Homo sapiens: one gene and its partners. The protein of the gene in region 3 interacts with the protein of the main gene of each other region in a pairwise test. Each region holds a gene or a part of one and is shown on either strand. Other genes may lie near its edges. The genes, in order: PARD3, PRKCZ and PARD6G.

The links.
Region 1: the proteins of PARD6G (region 3) and PARD3 interact in binary tests that used the Homo sapiens proteins (3 or more experiments, as listed by UniProt).
Region 2: the proteins of PARD6G (region 3) and PRKCZ interact in binary tests that used the Homo sapiens proteins (3 or more experiments, as listed by UniProt).

Annotation. Positions count from the first base shown.
Region 1 is NC_000010.11:34,109,061-34,112,416, reverse strand, and holds the end of PARD3 (partitioning defective 3 homolog), read left to right. Parts: intron 1-854; coding exon 855-1,248; 3' UTR 1,249-2,856; downstream 2,857-3,356. UniProt on the Homo sapiens protein: Adapter protein involved in asymmetrical cell division and cell polarization processes. Seems to play a central role in the formation of epithelial tight junctions. Targets the phosphatase PTEN to cell junctions.
Region 2 is NC_000001.11:2,053,324-2,060,443, forward strand, and holds part of PRKCZ (protein kinase C zeta type), read left to right. Parts: intron 1-2,117; coding exon 2,118-2,239; intron 2,240-3,160; coding exon 3,161-3,250; intron 3,251-6,217; coding exon 6,218-6,268; intron 6,269-7,120. UniProt on the Homo sapiens protein: Calcium- and diacylglycerol-independent serine/threonine-protein kinase that functions in phosphatidylinositol 3-kinase (PI3K) pathway and mitogen-activated protein (MAP) kinase cascade, and is involved in NF-kappa-B activation, mitogenic signaling, cell proliferation, cell polarity, inflammatory response and maintenance of long-term potentiation (LTP).
Region 3 is NC_000018.10:80,160,461-80,167,580, forward strand, and holds part of PARD6G (partitioning defective 6 homolog gamma), read right to left. Parts: intron 2,144-7,120; exon of another isoform or gene 2,056-2,143; intron 147-2,055; coding exon 1-146. UniProt on the Homo sapiens protein: Adapter protein involved in asymmetrical cell division and cell polarization processes. May play a role in the formation of epithelial tight junctions. The PARD6-PARD3 complex links GTP-bound Rho small GTPases to atypical protein kinase C proteins.

The DNA of each region.
Region 1 (3,356 bases), on a different chromosome or scaffold from region 3:
GATAGTAAATTAAAGATGTTTCAAAACAATAATGTTTCCTGGAAATCATGCCCAACTCTGTTGCAGAAGTGGGAAGAATTTGAAATTTCCATGTGACTCTGATTTACTTGCCTATCCTGGGGTGACAGAAAGCAAGTTAAGTAGGTCACCCTGGCCTTTGGTGAAGGTAAATGTATAAGAAAATAGTGCTTACTTTACAGACTTCCGGACTCTCCGTCCAATCTGGATGAGCAGGTATCCCGGAGAGTGTAAGTTGCTGACATACACAACTTGAAAGCCAGAGCTTTAAGGGACTGCCTGTTGCATTTTTTATCATAAAGGAGTCTAGACTTAAATCTTTCATAACCGAACTCATACTGTAATCCATTACATGTACTTCATATTAGCTAGCGCTTCTGGCATTATGGTGGCAGCTGTGTAAAATATTTGTTGTGCTTGTTTAGAATTGAATTGTAATGTTCTAAAGCGAGCAATTATTCCTACCATGGAAGCTGCCAAACCTCTAATACTTCTATACTTTGCCAGTGTGTCTAAATTGCAGGAGATATTGGTACCCTAAGCAGAACAGACACAACCTTCTCAGACACAGGAGGATGACCCTGTTTCTAAATAGCTGCACAGTCTAGTTCTCTCTCCTGTTTACTCGTTGTTAGTTTAGTTGTCTAAGACTATGCGCTTGCTGAGGACAGTCATTTTTGAATTCTCCAGCCCCTATCGCAGTGTCTGGCATGTGATGAGAGAACAGGAATATTTGTTGAAAAGTGAAAATGCATATTCCATCCCATCCTGCCCCCTTTCCTCCCTCTCCCTCCTTCTTCCTACCCTCACACTAACCTTTGGGTTTTGCTTTCTAGGCAAAGCAGGAAAAATGCCAGCTCGGTCTCCCAGGACTCTTGGGAGCAGAACTACTCCCCTGGGGAAGGCTTCCAGAGTGCCAAAGAGAACCCCAGGTACTCCAGCTACCAAGGCTCCAGGAACGGCTACCTGGGAGGACATGGCTTCAACGCCAGGGTCATGCTGGAAACTCAGGAGCTCCTTCGCCAGGAACAGAGGCGGAAGGAGCAGCAGATGAAGAAGCAGCCTCCTTCCGAGGGGCCCAGCAACTATGACTCGTATAAGAAAGTCCAGGACCCCAGTTACGCCCCTCCCAAGGGGCCCTTCCGGCAAGATGTGCCCCCCTCCCCTTCTCAGGTTGCGAGGCTGAACAGACTTCAGACTCCTGAGAAAGGGAGGCCCTTCTATTCCTGAGCACGCAAATAACGGATGCTTCATGTCGCGCAATAAAAGACATTTTCCTATGAAGACTTGTATTTTGGGAGTTTTTTTAAAACCTCGATGGTACTATGGAGTATTTCTGTTGTTGGTATCAGTGCCTTTAAGCGGTGTAGGCAAAGAAATGGAAGGCCTTAATGTCTTTGCCACTATGTCTCAAGTGTCTGTTTCATGGAAGGATTTCCCACCCTGTGACAATCATCTGTTTGAGGTGTTCATATGCTCTGCGCCTCTCCACAGTACCAGGAATCTCGGCCCTACTCATGAGTTGTCCGCGGCTTGGTTGTAACATCCCTGCACCACTTGCAGTGACAAATTCACCTGAAGTGGAGGATGACGTGCGGCCCTGTTTCTCCCTCTAAGTTCTCTTAGCTATGGGATGACATCTTAGTCTCTGGTGGAGGAAAAGTGGGCGACATACACCAAAAATTGGGGCTTTCTGGTACTTCACAGCACAGCCATTTGTCGTACTTTGTCATCACTGTGGTTTTCTCTTTCCTTTCTCAGCTCTTTGTGACGGGAGAGTCGGTCATCCTATTACAGAAGCTAAGCCATAGTCCAACATTGTTTGGTCACCATGGGGGTCCTTTTGTAACTGCCTTATGACTCAACATTACCAATAAAGTGATGATCCTGGTCTGCGTTTATACATACGCTTGTTCGGTCCTGTTCCTGACACGTGGGTTGAGTCACCACAGCTCTGTGTGGGGAACGTGGGAGACAGGAGTGGCTCCTGCCGGGGGAAGCTGGGCCTGCCATTGGCCCTGTGTCTATCATGAGGGGAGAGCTAAGAAAGAAATTCTCCTAGGAAGAGCTCATGGCCCAGTACATCCTAGTAATTATTTTAATTAGTTTTTGTTCTGACAGCTTGTCAGGAAGGGCACAGAATGGGACAGAGATAAACCAGACAGTCATTTTGATCTGCTCTCTACGGTTTTTCAAGTCAGAGGCAATTGATGCTTGTCTAATGCATCCACACACTGCATGTCTGACTGGCGATGCCGCGCTCCTAAGTAGTTCTGCCATGAAACATAAAAGACAAAGGAAAAGCCGTTACACATCACACAGAGAACATTTTCGGGTCCCACAGCGGTGGTGGCAGGAAGCTCACTCTCGCGTCAGTATTAGAGTGTGTGTGTGGGTCTCGGGGATCTCGGTGGCTCCCATCTTCCTTCATTGTTCTGAACATCCTGTATTGTAAACCATGGCTGGGGTGCTAAAGTGCCTGTGAATCCCGATGTGGAAAAAGCTGGAGGTGAAAGCTCAGCATACCATGTATTTACTTTAAAAACAGAAAAAAAGACATGTATGGATATGTCTATTTTTTTTTTATTGGCACATTGTATTTTTGTGTTGACTTGTTTTTAGAAATGATGTGTCCACACACGTACCCGTGTCTCTTCTGCATTTCTGTGTCATGGTTCTGTTTCTTAATCACGTGCGGCGGTGTCTAAGTGGTGTTACCAGTGTACGCGCAGTGACCTTGGATGACAGTGGCTCTTTCTCACAGCCTCCCCTGAGCTGTGAGAAACAGCTTTCTCTGTACATATGCAACTCCTAATAAAAGGCATATTTCTTCCTGTTCTTTTGGTGTCTCTGGTGTTCCTGGGCAGCCTTGCCTAGCTGGGCTTTTTTAAAAGGTCTATTAACAGATGTGATTTTTTTTTTTTTTTTATATTTAGAGAAAGTTGGAAGTTTCCTCACATCTGAGGAAAGTTTGCAGGAAAGGGGGCAGGAGAACCCTGGGGCCCACTCTTGGATGAGGATGGAGAGGGGGGACTCACCTGTCCCTTGGAAAAGATGGTCCCCATTATGACATCATTCTCACTCTTAGTCCATTAAGACAATATACAGTCTTACAGTTGGAAGTCTCAAAGTGGGAAGTTTGCAAACACAGGAACTGGTGGTTGATTGCGTATTTGAGCACCTGAGGAGAGAGGGGAAGGGGAGAGACAAGAACCTTCATGAGTCCACTGCAAGGCCCAGGCTGCCTGAAGAAGCCTGAGGAGTTCTGAATTGAAGGAGCCAGTACAGCTCGAACTAAATGAATGAAAAATTATGCAGAAAGCGACATGATAGTCCCA
Region 2 (7,120 bases), on a different chromosome or scaffold from region 3:
CTTCTGACCTCGTGATCCGCCCGCCTTGGCCTCCCAAAGCGCTGGGATGAAAGGCGTGAGTCACCGCGCCTGGCCCAGCTCAGACAACGTTTGTGTTCAGGGAGCTTCTGTGTGCAAAGCCCAGGGCTTGGTGCTGAGGCCAACAGAGACGCAGGAGTCTCTCCCGGGCGGCCCAGCTGGCTGCTGGGTGCTGAGTCCTGGACGCCCCTGCTGAAGGGCACAGGGCAGCTGTTTGATTCAGGATTGGGATAGGGTTGGAGGTGGTGGCCTGACACTTCCCAAGCCCTGGGGTTTTACTGGAGCCACCCACCTGGCCTCTAGATTGGCCGGAAACTGGCTTCCACTGGAGGCAGGACTGTAGGGGTAGGGGCGTGGGGCAGGAAGAGGTCAAAGGTGAAGTGATGGCCGACTCCCACTCTGGAGTTCCTGGTGGTCAGACTTTTGGACTCCAGGTCAGGCAGCAGGCGTGGATGTCAGCTTGGGGCGACCCCAGGGTGATGGGTGTGTGACCCCCCTCCATTCCTTACTTTCCTAATCTGCCATGATGCTGTGGGCTGTGGCGAAGACCAGCCAGGTTGGTTCCTGTGGGGTGCTTGGGCACTGGGGGCAGGTGCTGGGTGGCCAGTTCCAGCAGGAAGGGGTGGGTAGCTGGGGCGTCTGTCCCCCAGGCCCAGGTGGCCCAGGGTGACTGGGTGAGGCCTGTGGGGCAGGTGGGCCCTGGGCTGCTGTGTCAGGGCCGCGGCTGTGGACCGATCCTGTGTTCTGTTTGCACTGGAGTTCTTGTCTGGGATGAGAACTTTGTTTCTTGAAACTTGTCTGATGAATTCAGATAACCTTGATGGGGAGCCAGCAGTGTCAGCGAAGAGCAGAGCCTGTATCTCTGGTTGGGACATCTCACACCCCTTCAGGCTTCTTTTTATAGGCCCTGTGCTCTTGCCCCGCGCTCTTGTGGGTGTCAGAAAGCCGTAGATTTTTCTGAAAATTCAGTGTGTTCACAAGGGTGTGATTCCCGCTCTGAGTTTCAGGAAACACCAGCTGGGCCCTGTGGTGGTCCCTCCCCTCCACGCAGGGTGAGACCAGCTCTTGCTCAGTGCAGGAGGTGAGGGGGGACCTCGGGTCCCTATCAGCAGGGAAGTGCCAGCCTTCAAAGGGTGCCTGGGAGTCCGTGAGCTTCCCCAGCCCCTGGAGTTCAGGTCCTGTCTGGGGCTGAAAAGATAAAACACACTGACTCTGTGTGACTCGGTTTTAAAAAAAAAAAAATCTGCCGGGGCTTCTGCCGTGGCTGCAGCAACGGACCCAGTGCCCACTCCGGGGTCTAAAGAGTGGCCTTTCATTATGGAATTATTTAATCCCCGCCACTTCACCGCTGGCACCGTCGAGGTCTGGGGGCAGGTCTGACTGGTTTCCTTTACCTTAGTGAAGCCGGCGGCCTGCACCGACCCGGCTCGCGCCCATCCCGGGGTCACCCACATTTGGGTGAACTTGAACGAGTGCCCGACCAGGTAACGTTGCCGGACCTCCCACAAGAGGGCACTTTCTTTTCTCCCATTTTGTCCTCATTCTTTCCAGCCAGGTAGGTCGCGCTTTTTTCTCTGTGCAAGGAAGTTGATGGTGGTCATTTTTTTTTTTTTTTTTTTAATACGGAGTCTCTCTCTGTCGCCCAGGCTGGACTGCAGTGGCGCGATCTCGGCTCGCTGCAAGCTCCGCCTCCCGGGTTCACGCCATTCTCTTGCCTCAGCCTCCCGAGTAGCTGGGACTACAGGCGCCCGCCACCGCGCCTGGCTAATTTTTTGTATTTTTAGTAGAGACGGGGTTTCACCGTGTTAGCCAGGATGGTCTCGATCTCCTGACCTCGTGATCCACCCGCCTCGGCCTCCCAAAGTGCTGGGATGACAGGTGTCAGGCACTGTGCTTGGCAATGGTGGCCATTTTTTAAACTATGGTTATGGTTAATGGTTCTATTTTGTGTGTGGGAGGGGGGAGGGGGTGGGGCTGTCATATTGTCTTTGGGGAAAGTTTCATTTATCTAATCAATGATTTGGTTAGTTGGTAATCATTTTTTAATTTGATTCAAATATGCCCCACGGTAACAGATGCCCATGTCCCCTCTGCCCCAGGGACATCTTCATCACCAGCGTGGACGCCGCCACGACCTTCGAGGAGCTCTGTGAGGAAGTGAGAGACATGTGTCGTCTGCACCAGCAGCACCCGCTCACCCTCAAGTGGGTGGACAGCGAAGGTAGCCCTTGTCCCATGTTGGCCAGAATCCTCAGCCTCAGGGGACTTCGCCAGGGCAGCCTCTGTGTGCGGAGTGTGCTCAGCCAATTCTGTGGGGAGACTTAAAGCTGTGGAATTAAACTTGTTGGCGCCAACTTTTCCCCAGTGGGGATGGTGGGAAAGAGGTTGGCCACAGATGCTTATCAAGGACCTGGGCCCAGATGCCCCTAGGAAGGGCTCTGGTCTTGAACTGCCTGCAGGGGGTCTCCCTGCCCCACCCTGGGCAGGTCCTCACCTCTTCCTCTGACCTCCTTTCTCATGTCCTGGCCTTTTTCGGTAGGTGCTTCTGAAAGGATGGGCTCTTCATATTCTAGGGACCACGGGGAGGGCACAAGCAGCCAGGGCCTGCCGTGTCCACCTCCTGTCTCTTAGACACATCCTGAAAAACAAGGGGATTGGGAGACGTCCAGAGAGACCCCTTTCTCCCAGGGACTGGCGGGCAGCTCTTGGCCAAGGACACGGCCGTGCGGGTGGAGCCTGATAGCGCCCCCGTTGGGTTGGGTACAGCCCTGCAGGGCCTGGGTTCTGTACACCTCCATGTCCCTTTCCAGCCATAGAGGGCAAGGAGCTCTCCCTCCGCCCAGGACTGACCTCCGGAGAGTGTCCTCAGCCCCGCTCACTGCTTAGCCCTCCAAGTGGTGCCCAGGGCTGCAGGTGTACTGACTTCCCTTCCGGGGTGGCTCTGACGCTGCACCGGGGGCCAGGTGACTCCCTAGTGTGGACGGCCGTCCTTGGACCTCCCGACCCTGCCAGGAGGTGGCCAGTCTGAGCATCGGGACTTTGCCCCCCACCAGACCCTTGTCTGGTGTGCTGAGCGGGCTCGTCACAGCCCCCTTTGCCTCGGGCCTTCGGCGACGTCAGCACCGTCTCCTGCCCCACCCAGGTGACCCTTGCACGGTGTCCTCCCAGATGGAGCTGGAAGAGGCTTTCCGCCTGGCCCGTCAGTGCAGGGATGAAGGCCTCATCATTCATGGTTAGTGGCGGGGTCTGTGGTGGGCAGCTCTGGGGGGCTGTTCCTGGCTGTGGGTGTCTGCCGACTAGCTGGGGGATTTAAAATGGTTTAAAATCCTATGATGCCAGAGAATTTAGGGATGTCTAATATAATGCCATTTGGGTTTTTTTCTTTGACTTTTTTTTTTTTTTTTTGAGACGGAGTCTTGCTCTGTTGCCCAGGCTGGAGTGCAGTGGCACAATCTCAGCTCACTGCAAGCTCCGCCTCCTGGGTTCATGCCATTCTCCTGCCTCAGCCTCCCGAGTAGCTGGGACTACAGGCGCCCGCCACCACGCCCGGCTAATTTTTTGTATTTTTTGTAGAGACGGGGTTTCACCGTGTTAGCCAGGATGGTCTCAGTCTCCTGACCTCGTGATCTGCCTGCCTCAGCCTCCCAAAGTGCTGGGATTACAGATGTGAGCCACCGCGCCCGGCCTTTTCTTTGACATTTTATTAACCCAAATGAAAACTGCTCTTAACAAAGAACCCGTAAACCACTCAGAGGCTCCAGTGGCCAGCGTAGGGCCCGCGGCGCATGTGGACAGAGGGGACAGCCCCACCAGCCACCTCACCTGCCCGGTGCTCCCTAGGCCCGGCTCCAGGCTCACAGCTGTCCTCAGCTTTAAGTTCAAAGCCCCATGATGAGCTGACGCATGGGAGATGTGATTGTGATCATTTCCACTTTGTCTTTAGGTGGGCGTGGGCTCCTCCCCGGTACTGCTGGGGGTCTGCAGGGCGTCTGGGGCCTGGGAATGTGGTTCCAGCGCTGTGGCCAGCCGGTCACGTCTTTGTCTCTGTGTCCACTTCTGGCGTAGCTTGGGCTCCTTGCCAGGCGTCTGGCCATGGACGATTGAGTCCAAGATGGGACCAAAGCTCGAAACCACCCATGGATTTCTGACAGATCCATCATTCTCCTGGACACCGGGCTACCTGGTTACAACACTTAATTTTCTTCGCCCTTTATATCAATGAGGCTCTAAATTTAAAGACTAGGCCGGGTGCGGTGGCTCACAACTGTAATCCCAGCACTTTGGGAGGTCAAGGTGGGAGGATCGCTTCAGCCTAGGAGTTCAAGACCAACCTGGGCAACATAGTGAGACCCCCCCCTCTCCAAAACTTGTTTTATTTTTTTGAGACAGAGTCTGGCTCTGTCCCCAGGCTGGAGTGCAGTGGCACTATCTCTGTTCACTGCAACCTCCACCTCCCAGATATAAGCGATTGTCCTGCCTCAGCCTCCCGAGTAGCTGGGACTACAGGCATGTGCCACCACACTTGGCTAATTTTTTTTTTTTTTTAGTTGGAGTCTCGCTCTGTCGCCCAGGCTGGAGTGCAGTGACGCGATCTCAGCTCAATGCAACCTCCGCCTCCCGGGTTCAAGCAATTCTTCTGCCTCACCCTCCCAAGTAGCTGGGACTACAGGCATGTGTCATCACGCCTGGCTAATGTTTTGTATTTTTAGTAGAGACGGAGTTTCACCATGTTAGCCAAGATGGTCTCGATCTCCTGACCTCGTGATCCACCCGCCTCAGCCTCCCAAAGTGCTGGGATTACAGGCGTGAGCCACGGTGCCCGGCCTAATTTTTGTATTTTTAGTAGAGATGGGGTCTCGCCATGTTGGCCAGGCTGTTCTCAAACTCCTGACCTTAGGTGATCTGCCTGCCTCAGCTTCCTGAAGTGTTGGGATTACAGGCGTGAGCCACGGTGCCCGGCCCCAATTTTTTTTTTTTTTTTTTTTTTTGATATTCAGACGTGGTGGTGCACCTGTAGTCCCAGTTACTCGGGAGGCTGAGGTGGGAGGATTCCTTGAGCACAGGAGGTAGAGGCTACAGTGAACTGTGATTATTCCACTGCACTCTAGCCTGAGTGATGGGGCGAAACCCTGTGTCAGATAAATAAATTCATAGATGTGCCTAATCTAGTCCTTTTTATTGTGGTTGTGATAGTAAGCACATTTTGCCTCTCTATGTGGAAAGATACAGTGGCTTAAAAATTCACATTGTTTTCTAGATAAAAGAAAAATAGGGCTGGGTTCAGTGGCACACACTTGTAATCCCAGCACTTTGGGAGGCCGAGGCAGGTGGATCACTTGAGGTCAGGAGTTCAAGACCAGCCTGACCAACATGGTGAAACCCCATCTCTACTATAAATACAAAAATTAGCCGGGCGTGGTGGTGTACACTTGTAATCCCAGCTACTTGGGAGGCTGAGGCAGGAGAACTGCTGGAACCCGAGAGGTGGAGGTTGCAGTGAGCTGAGATTGTGCCACTGAGCTCCAGCCTGGGCACAGAGTGAGACTCCATCTGAAAAAAACCAACAAAAAACAAAAAATGTTTGTTTTTTTAAAGTTTCAATACTTTTATGTGTATACACACACACATAAAAAAGTAGAGATGGGGTTTCGTCATGTTGGCCAGGCTGGTCTTGAACTCCTGGCCTGAAGCCATCCTCTCATCTCGGCCTCCCAAAGTGCTGGGATTGCAGGCGTGAGCCATCATGTCCAGCCAAGTTTTAATACTTTCTAAGCACCTATTTTAATAATTTATTGTGGAAGCCCAGGATATATGTTAAAATAATTTTGAACTCTGTCTTGAGTATGAAGAAGTGGAATCTAAAGTGCTTTTAAAAGTCAGTGTTCAAAGTAATTGCATTTCTTTCCCATTTTTATATAGTTTAAAAATACAAATCAGTAGCTTCCTCTGATGGCTTTGCTGTCCAGGTCCCTCTGATTGCCTTTTACTCTAAGTTTTTCCGTGGGTTTTAAAGTCGGAGCCTGGCCTACGTAGACGCACGGGGTTTTGCGTCTCCCAGGAGCGGGCTCTCATTGGCAGTGCCACGTGCGCCTTGCGTGAAGTCCACGTGCTCAGCCTGACTGAGGCGGGACTTCCTCCGTGAGACTGTTGAGTGGCAGCCGCAGGGTCTTGACGCTGTCTCTTTCTCTCTCTTGTCCAGTTTTCCCGAGCACCCCTGAGCAGCCTGGCCTGCCATGTCCGGGAGAAGACAGTGAGTACTGGGGTTTCCTACGCCGGTCTCGCATGTTACGGGGTTGAACTGTTGATCCGTTGTGCCACGGAGGTGGCAGTGGTGCCGTTTTCGGAGGTTCACCCTCGTGGAGCGTCAGGGCAGGAGCAGCCGTGGTGACCGCAGGTGGGGTTTTCACTGCAGCTGCTGCCTGTGCGTGTTCTGGCTGACAGCACCACATGGCGGGGGACTCGCTTGGCTGGTTGGTAGCATGAGAAGTCCAGGGGTGCCCTGCCGTCTCCCTAGGAGGGAGGGGCCAGGTGGGAGGCTGGACACTGCTCCTTTGTGGCTGCCTCAGCTCACGACCACCCCTAGGCCAGTCGTCTGCTCCTCCTGGTCCCTGCTGGCCCCTGAGCTGGTGTGGGGGCTCCGTTCATCCCACACTGGCTCCATTGTTGGGAGAGGAAGGAGAGTGAGTCCCGGGGGCTGTGGCTTCAGAGGGAAGCTTCTGACCTCACTTCCTACTGCATCCCGGAGACTGTTGGGCCCTGAGCAGGTGGCTACGCTGCTCTCGGGCCGCGCATCCCATGGCTGTGCTTGGTGGGGTTCCACCCCCACTCTCCAGACCCCACACGGCCTCCAGCATCCGTGCCATGCCTTGTTCGTTGTGTGGGCAGGAGCTCCTGGACCGAGGCCGCTGCCTGTCCAGCGCAGGGCACGTGGCTCAGTGCCCTTCAGGCAGGGCTTCCCCCACCCCTGCTGCCAGGGCACACACCTCGCTGGCCTCAGGCTGGATGCTGGGTGTTGGCAGTGCCCTGTGTTGGGCGGGAACTGGGGGTGGGAGCAGATTCAGGCCAAGAGGGTGAGTGGGCAGTTGGGGCGAGAGTCTTGGCT
Region 3 (7,120 bases):
GATGATGGATGATACGGGGCGGAAGTCGCGCGGGAGGCCGATGTCCAGGTGTGCACGCCGCCGGGGTCCTTCATCACGCAGCGCGCCCAGCGCCCGCCTCCGCCTGCACAGCGAGCCCGCGCCGAGGCTGCCACGCTCGGCCTCCTCTGCGGGAGAGGGGACAGTTAGAGGGGACACACAACCGAGCCCCGCCTGAGCCCTCGGCCGTCATACACCTGGCACTGCTGTTCCATCTGCGTGACGCCGAAGCACCCAGGGTGCACAGGAGCATTCCAGACCTGCAGGCTGAGCTGAAATCAGGCAAGCTCAAGTGCAGCCCCTAAAATTAACTCTCTAGCACTCTCCTTACAGCTCCACAGGCACCAAACCAAAGAACTCAGAGATTAAAAGGTGCTAGCAGGCAGCTGCAGCAGAGAGAATCAATGGCAGTGGAGGGTTTAGGGCTTGGAGGGCTGGCGAGTGCCTCAGCCTTCTGGGAGGCAGCAGGCTGGACTGGGGACTTCTTAAGCTTTGCCCATTCTCCCATATTTCCTTCTCTCAACTGTAAGACGGAGGCTCGTTTTTTTCTAAGGTTAATTACAACTAAGAGAGACCTTTCCTGCTTTCTTCTTTTCTATGCGCAAGCCCCACCACAGTGTCTTCTAGCCAGCATTCAAGGCCCCTGAATGTGTCACTCAGTCGGGCGTGTGAGCATTTCCCTGCGTTTTTGGTTAGCAGCTGATGAGGGGAGATGAGTAGAGGAAGGAGTGGGATCAGAGGATGGCTGCTTCCCTTCTGTGAGGTCCCGCACAGTCAGTGCTATTTGTAGGCACATGGAGCCTCAAGGCTCACCAATATGCCCAGCCTCCCATGGGGGCTGTGCAGCTCTCTTCCTCAGGTCTCCCAGGGACCCTGTGGGATCCGCCTGCCCACACCTGCCAGCCTGTGGCATGACACATTTGTGGCAGTGTGTAAACTTTACCCTAAAGTTGGGCTACTGCAAAATAAAATGAAAGTCCACTGAATTAATCAAGCAGAAACGTAAGGAGCTTAGTCTAAAGTAAAAATTTTAAGTGAAGAGACTGGTGGCATTTGGAAACTCTGAATAATGCATTTTCCTCATGTCAGAAAAAAAATCTTGTTTCATTAATTTTTATATGAAACCTCTTGTTCTTGACACACACGACTCTGTAAGACAGGCGTCTCGGGGAGCAGAGGGAAGGGCTTGCTCTGTGAGGCTTGGTCCTGTGGAGTTGGTGGCATCCACAGCAGCCTGCTCTTTGGGCTGGGGAGGCTCACATCTTTGCTTTGCCAGTGAAAGCCAGTAGGACCGGGAGCCCAGGCAGAAGCAATGCCATAAACAGGCGCTCCTCAGAGCAGAGACCTCCAGGCTCCAGGGGTCAGTCTGGCTTCTGCATTTCAGTGAGCAGGCAGGGCCCATTATGACTTGCTTTGGAGATGGGGAATGCTGGTTGACAGTTCTGGAAAGGACTCGAAGACAAATTACTTCCACCATGGAGGCAACATTCAGGCAGCTTGGAGAGGAGGCCAATGCTCAGGCATCACATCTCTCAACCCAGCAGAGCCCATGGCTGCCTAGACAACGAGAAGGCCCTAGCACAGGCTCTGGCACATGCTCCAGGCAGCAGGGTTAATGCACCCTGGAGCCGGGATGCCCCAGCATGAGGACTGTCTTCCTGGGAGCTGGCATCCTGGCCAGCACTCAACACATGCTGCTCAGTGACGGAACCCATCCGTCATCAGTTATCAGCATAATTTATTACCCACTGACACAGTAAGGTCTGGAAGGACTTTTGAAATAAGATGACTTTTAAAAACTATACCTGTAAACCCTGTTTACCCTGACGTGATTATTATGCATTGTATGCCTGTATCAAAATCTCATGTAACCCATAAATATATATACCTAATATGTACCCACAAAAATAAAAAAATAAAATGACACTTGTAATACTTCTTCCCAGCTGTGACCACCGGGGCTGGGTGTGCATGTCTGTCAAGTCCTTTCTTGCACACTCACACGTACATGTGGCTATGGTTGTGCTTGTTTTATAGAAATGGGATCTTGGTTCCTGGCCAGCACCCGGCCTCTCTGCACCTCATAGACACTGCAAATCCTTACTCAGTGACTTCAGGGATACAGGTGAGTGGATAAAGTCCCTGCCCTGAAGTAGCCATGAAGCGAGTGGGAGAGATACAGACTGAATTTTACATACAGCTACATGGAGAACACCGTGAGACTGGATGTGCACAGGATATGATAGGAACAGTGCGGGGGCATCTGGGGAGGTGGCAGTTATGCTGCCCGGGGTGTGGGGATCAACAACACAAAGTTCAAGAGAAGACGCCGGAGGGTGAGTGGCACAGAGCTCCTCTTCCCGTGATGAGGAGAGACTACCTGTAGAGTCCATCTGGTCTGGCTGCTGCCGCAGGTTTGGACTAACCAAGGGCCTGGGACAGAGTGGGCTCTCCCTGGACTAAAAGCTAAACCTCACTGAAGGCATCTGCCTCATGATTGCTCATTCTAAGTGGGAGGGACTGTGGATCCATGGGGCCGCAGATGGAAGTGTGGCAGTGTCCGAGGCACAGTGCTCTGCCTGCTTTCCATGATACGGGCTCTTCCCAAGGGGTCTCCTTGGATGACAAATCTATGCACTTTCAAGAAGGCAACCCCTCTGGCAAACTCATGCCTGCAAGAACATTGTGGTGCAGGTGGCCATCCACATGCTCCTCCTTGAGGACAGGCCCTATGCTCAGGCCCTGTGCTCAGAGCCACGAGCAGCAGGGCCCAGGAGAAGAGACTAAGGTTTTATGCAGGGCAGGTGAGGCCTGAGATGCTGAGGGTAGGGGAGTAAGAAATGGTGTGTGTCCATGTGTGAAACAGCCTGGCCGCCTGTCCCACACACGGGCAGAGTACAGTGAGGCTTGGCCCGGGAGAGGTGACACCTACTGTTCCAAGCATCCTCTTTCTCTCTACCACTGACTCACAGAGTTTGAGGTTCAATTTCACCTCCCTCTGAGAGCCGCTTGTCTTCAAGTCCCAGTTCACAGCCACCCATCCCGGGAGCCCCACCCCTGTTCCGCATGGTGCATTCCCTTCCACCAAAACCACAAACCTGTCTGCGTCACAAGGGCCAGGTGGAAGCATCTCGGCCATCCCCACAGGGCAGCAAGTGCTCTGGCCGTGGTGCACGGTGGACTGGATTGAGGCTCAAGCCCAGAACTGTAGGATACAGAGAAGGGCACAGCGGGCCGGGCCCCTCCTCGTAAGGGGCTTATAAATCACTTAGGTAGACCAGGGTTCCCTGCACCAATAAAAGCAAGTGTGTGGACCTCTGCTTCCCAGAAGTCATGTAGTTCTTCCCATCCCTCCTAAGTTCAACAAAAACCCTGGATGTTACATACAAAACAACAAATATAAGATGACGCAGGAGAGAAGTCGCACTAGCTGGGGCCTCAGGACCGGAGAAGCAACATGGCAGCAGCTCCTTGGGTTTTCTTTTAGCCTTGTCATCCCAGACTTGGAGCTGAAGGCACCAGCAACCTGGATGCACCAACAGGCATAGACCAAAAAGCCCCATCAAAAGTCTGCTCTGTCTGTACAAAGATCAGAAAGAGGCAGCCTAAAAGGACGGAACACGTGTGGACAATAACTACCCCACCTGCTGCACCCCACACACAGAGCCTGGACCCTCACCTCCTCAAGGCTAGAATGGGTGCCCAACAGCCCCTGGCTCTGGTGCCAGAGAGACTAAGCAGGGAGTGAGGACCTGGCCTTTGTATTTTGTCCATGGGCCCCACAGTCTTGAGTGGGCCTCTCCTCCCTCAAAACACTTAGGGGCCATCCTAACAGCCCCTCCTCCTGGCCAAGTCCCAACTACTGCAAATCCCTCCCCTGCACTCCAAACCCTCCAACCTGTGAGGGGCGTTGCCTCTGTGATGTGCTCTCCATGTGTCTAAAAGGCTCCAGCTTTTAACTTTCATGGTTGGGTGTTTCCACCGGGTCCACACTGCTCTTCACGTCACAACTGAATGTCATGCCCATAGTAAGAGGATGAAACTGGGGGGTCCTGGGCCTTCAAGGACTTGAGCAGAGGGGAGCCTTGTTTACCCACCTAACAATAATGTAAAATATAATCCTAGCCAACCTCAAATTAAACCTTTTGAAGATATGTAATGGGGGAACCTGCCCCCAATATTTCAACGTAGGTTCTATTTTCCATAAATGTCAGCCAGCTGAGCAAGAGAAAGAGTACAAAGAGAGGAATTTTACAGCTGGGCCACCAGGGATGACATCACCTATCGGTAGGTCCGTGATGCCCACCTGAGCCTCAAACCAGCAGGTTTTTTATTAAGGGTGTCAAAACGGGAGGGGGTGTAAAACAGGGAGTGGGTACAAAGATCACATGCTTCAAAAGGCAAAAAGCAGACGTACTAATAACGGTCTAACAAAGATCACATGCTTCTGAGGGAACAGGACAAAAGGAAAAAGCGGAACCACTGATAAGCATCCAACAAACACAAGGCAAAGGGCAAAAGCAGAACCACTGATAAGGGTCTATGTTCAGCAGTGCACATATTGTCTTGATAAACATCTTCAACAACAGAAAACAGGGTTCGAGAGCAGAGAACCGGTCTGACCACAAATTTACCAGGGCAGAGTTTCTCCCCACCCTAGTAAGCCTGAAGGTTCTGCAGGAGACCAGGGCGTATCTCAGTCCTTATCTCAATCACATAAGACAGACATTCCCAGAGTGGCCATTTATAGACCTCCCCTAGGAATGCATTCCTTTCCCAGGGTATTAATATTAATATTCCTTGCTAAGAAAAGAATTTAGTGATCTCTCTCCTACTTCCATGTCCATTTATAGGCTCTCTGCAAGAAGAAAAATATGGCTCTTTTTGCCTGACCCTGCAGACAGACCTTATGGTTGTCTTCCCTTGTTCCCTAAAAATCACTGTTATTCTGTTCTTTTTCAAGGTGCACTGATTTCATATTGTTCAAACACATGTTTTACAATTTGTACAGTTAACAAAATTATCACAGTGGTCCTGAGGTGACGTATATCCTCAGCTTACGAAGATAACAGGATTAAGAGATTAAAGACAGGCATAAGAAATTATAAAAGTATTATTTGGGAACTGATAAATGTCCATGAAATCTTCACAATTTATGTTCCTCTGCTGTGGCTCCAGCCAGTCCCTCCATTCAGGGTCCCTGACTTCCCGCAATGGATATGTCTTTGCCTCTAAAATTTTAGTAAAGGTTTGTTTTGAAAAAACATGGTGTTGAACTGTTAACCTCCAGGAAGTTGCCAGAAAACATAATTTATCATTTCCACTGGGTGCGCTGGCTCACACCTGTAATCCCAGCACTTTGGAAGGCCAAGGTGGGTGGATCACCTGAGGTCAGGAGTTCAAAACCAGCCTGACCAACATGGTGAAACCCTGTCTCTATTAAAAATACAAAAATTAGCTGGGCGTTGTGGCATCCACCTGTAATCCCAGCTAGTAGGGAGACTGAGGCAGCAGAATCGCTTCCAGACAGCGGAGGCTGCAGTGAGCTGAGATCGTGCCATTGCACTCCAGCCTGGGCAAGAAGAGCAAAACTCCATCTCAAAAAAAAAAATTATCATTTCCGCTTATTTCCTAACATAGCTACCACTTTGTCACCATTTGGACCTGTAAACAAATGTGACTGTTCCCTTGTATTTTTCCTTCTGAGATGAAGGCAGTCATGTCAGCGGCACACAGCCTCAGCTCATGGACACCGTATGGTCAGGTCGGCACCAACACAGCACACCACCCCAATCATGAGTGTGTTCCTCCTCTCTGCCGCACCCCAAGCAGAACAAAGGCCCAGATGCAGGGCTGCAAGTGTCTCTCTCAGCAGCCCCACTGCATTCTGCTAAGCAGGCGACACAGTCTGGGGCACGTGTGCCATGGCAGACACTGCTGGTGTGACCCTCGGTCATGGGGGCATCAGGACGCCTTGTCTCAGTGGAAAATCTCCACCTCCCTTAGAATTTAAAGGCGTCAAGTTCATTGAAAGCGATCAGTTACAGCCTCCTCCATGGTCAGATCTAGTTGCCCCAAACACAACAGCTCCGTGGCAGCTTTTTTACAGCAGCATTTTCAAGTTTCTGGTAAATGTCCTCTGTAGAGAGCGTCAGACAAGCAGGGGAGGTACGTGCCCCTTTCATCCTGTCCTGGCTCCTTACATCCTCAGAGCACGAGACAGTCCACAGGGTCCTCACTCCCCATGTCCACCTTCCCGGGGAACTTCAGGGGAGTGCATAGCCCTCCCTGCAGACCAGGAAGGTCTGGTCCTCCCCCGACCATAAGGGGGCTGTTCTCACAGAAGTCCCTTCAGGGCCCCTTCTCCACACCACAGCCACCTCTTTTGGGGCCCCACAACTGCAAACACTTGAGGATCCAACAAACCAGAGCCCCCTTTGATCTCAGTCGTGCTGGCCAGACCCTAACATCCCATGCTGACCCCTCTGGCCTTGGCCCTGTGCTCCAAGGGAGTTTCAGCGCATCTAAAGGTGCAGGGCTCCGTGTGTCACCGTATGGAATAATTACCACTTTTCAGGGCAAGACAATGGCCAATCAAAACAGTGACAGTTCACAATTACAAGTGACACCCATTGGGCCTCACAGGTCACATCCCTGCTGTGGGTCCTCTGTTGTGGTTCCTGCCTGAGAGCATCATGTTGCGTGTGGACGTGTGTGCAGGATAACACGTGGGCAGTGTTGTGTGTGGACCTGTGTGCCGGATAACACATGGGCAGTGTTGCGTGTGGACGTGTTGCAGGATAACACATGGGCAGTGTTGTGTGTGGACCCGTGTGCAGGATAACACATGGGCAGTGTTGCGTGTGGATGTGTGTGCAGGATAACACATGGGCAGTGCTGAGGACAGGGCACGGCTCTTCATGCAGCAGCTCACTCAGGGCAGCAAGCTTGGAGCAGGTACTCCTGGGGACAGGGACACAGGCTCAGGGATTCAGGGCCCCGGAATGGCCTGGACAGGGAAGGTCTTTTGTGTAACCCCCATGACAGGCAAGGCAGCAGCAACGCTCCACCATGTTTCCAGACAGACTTGGGGTCCTGGGAG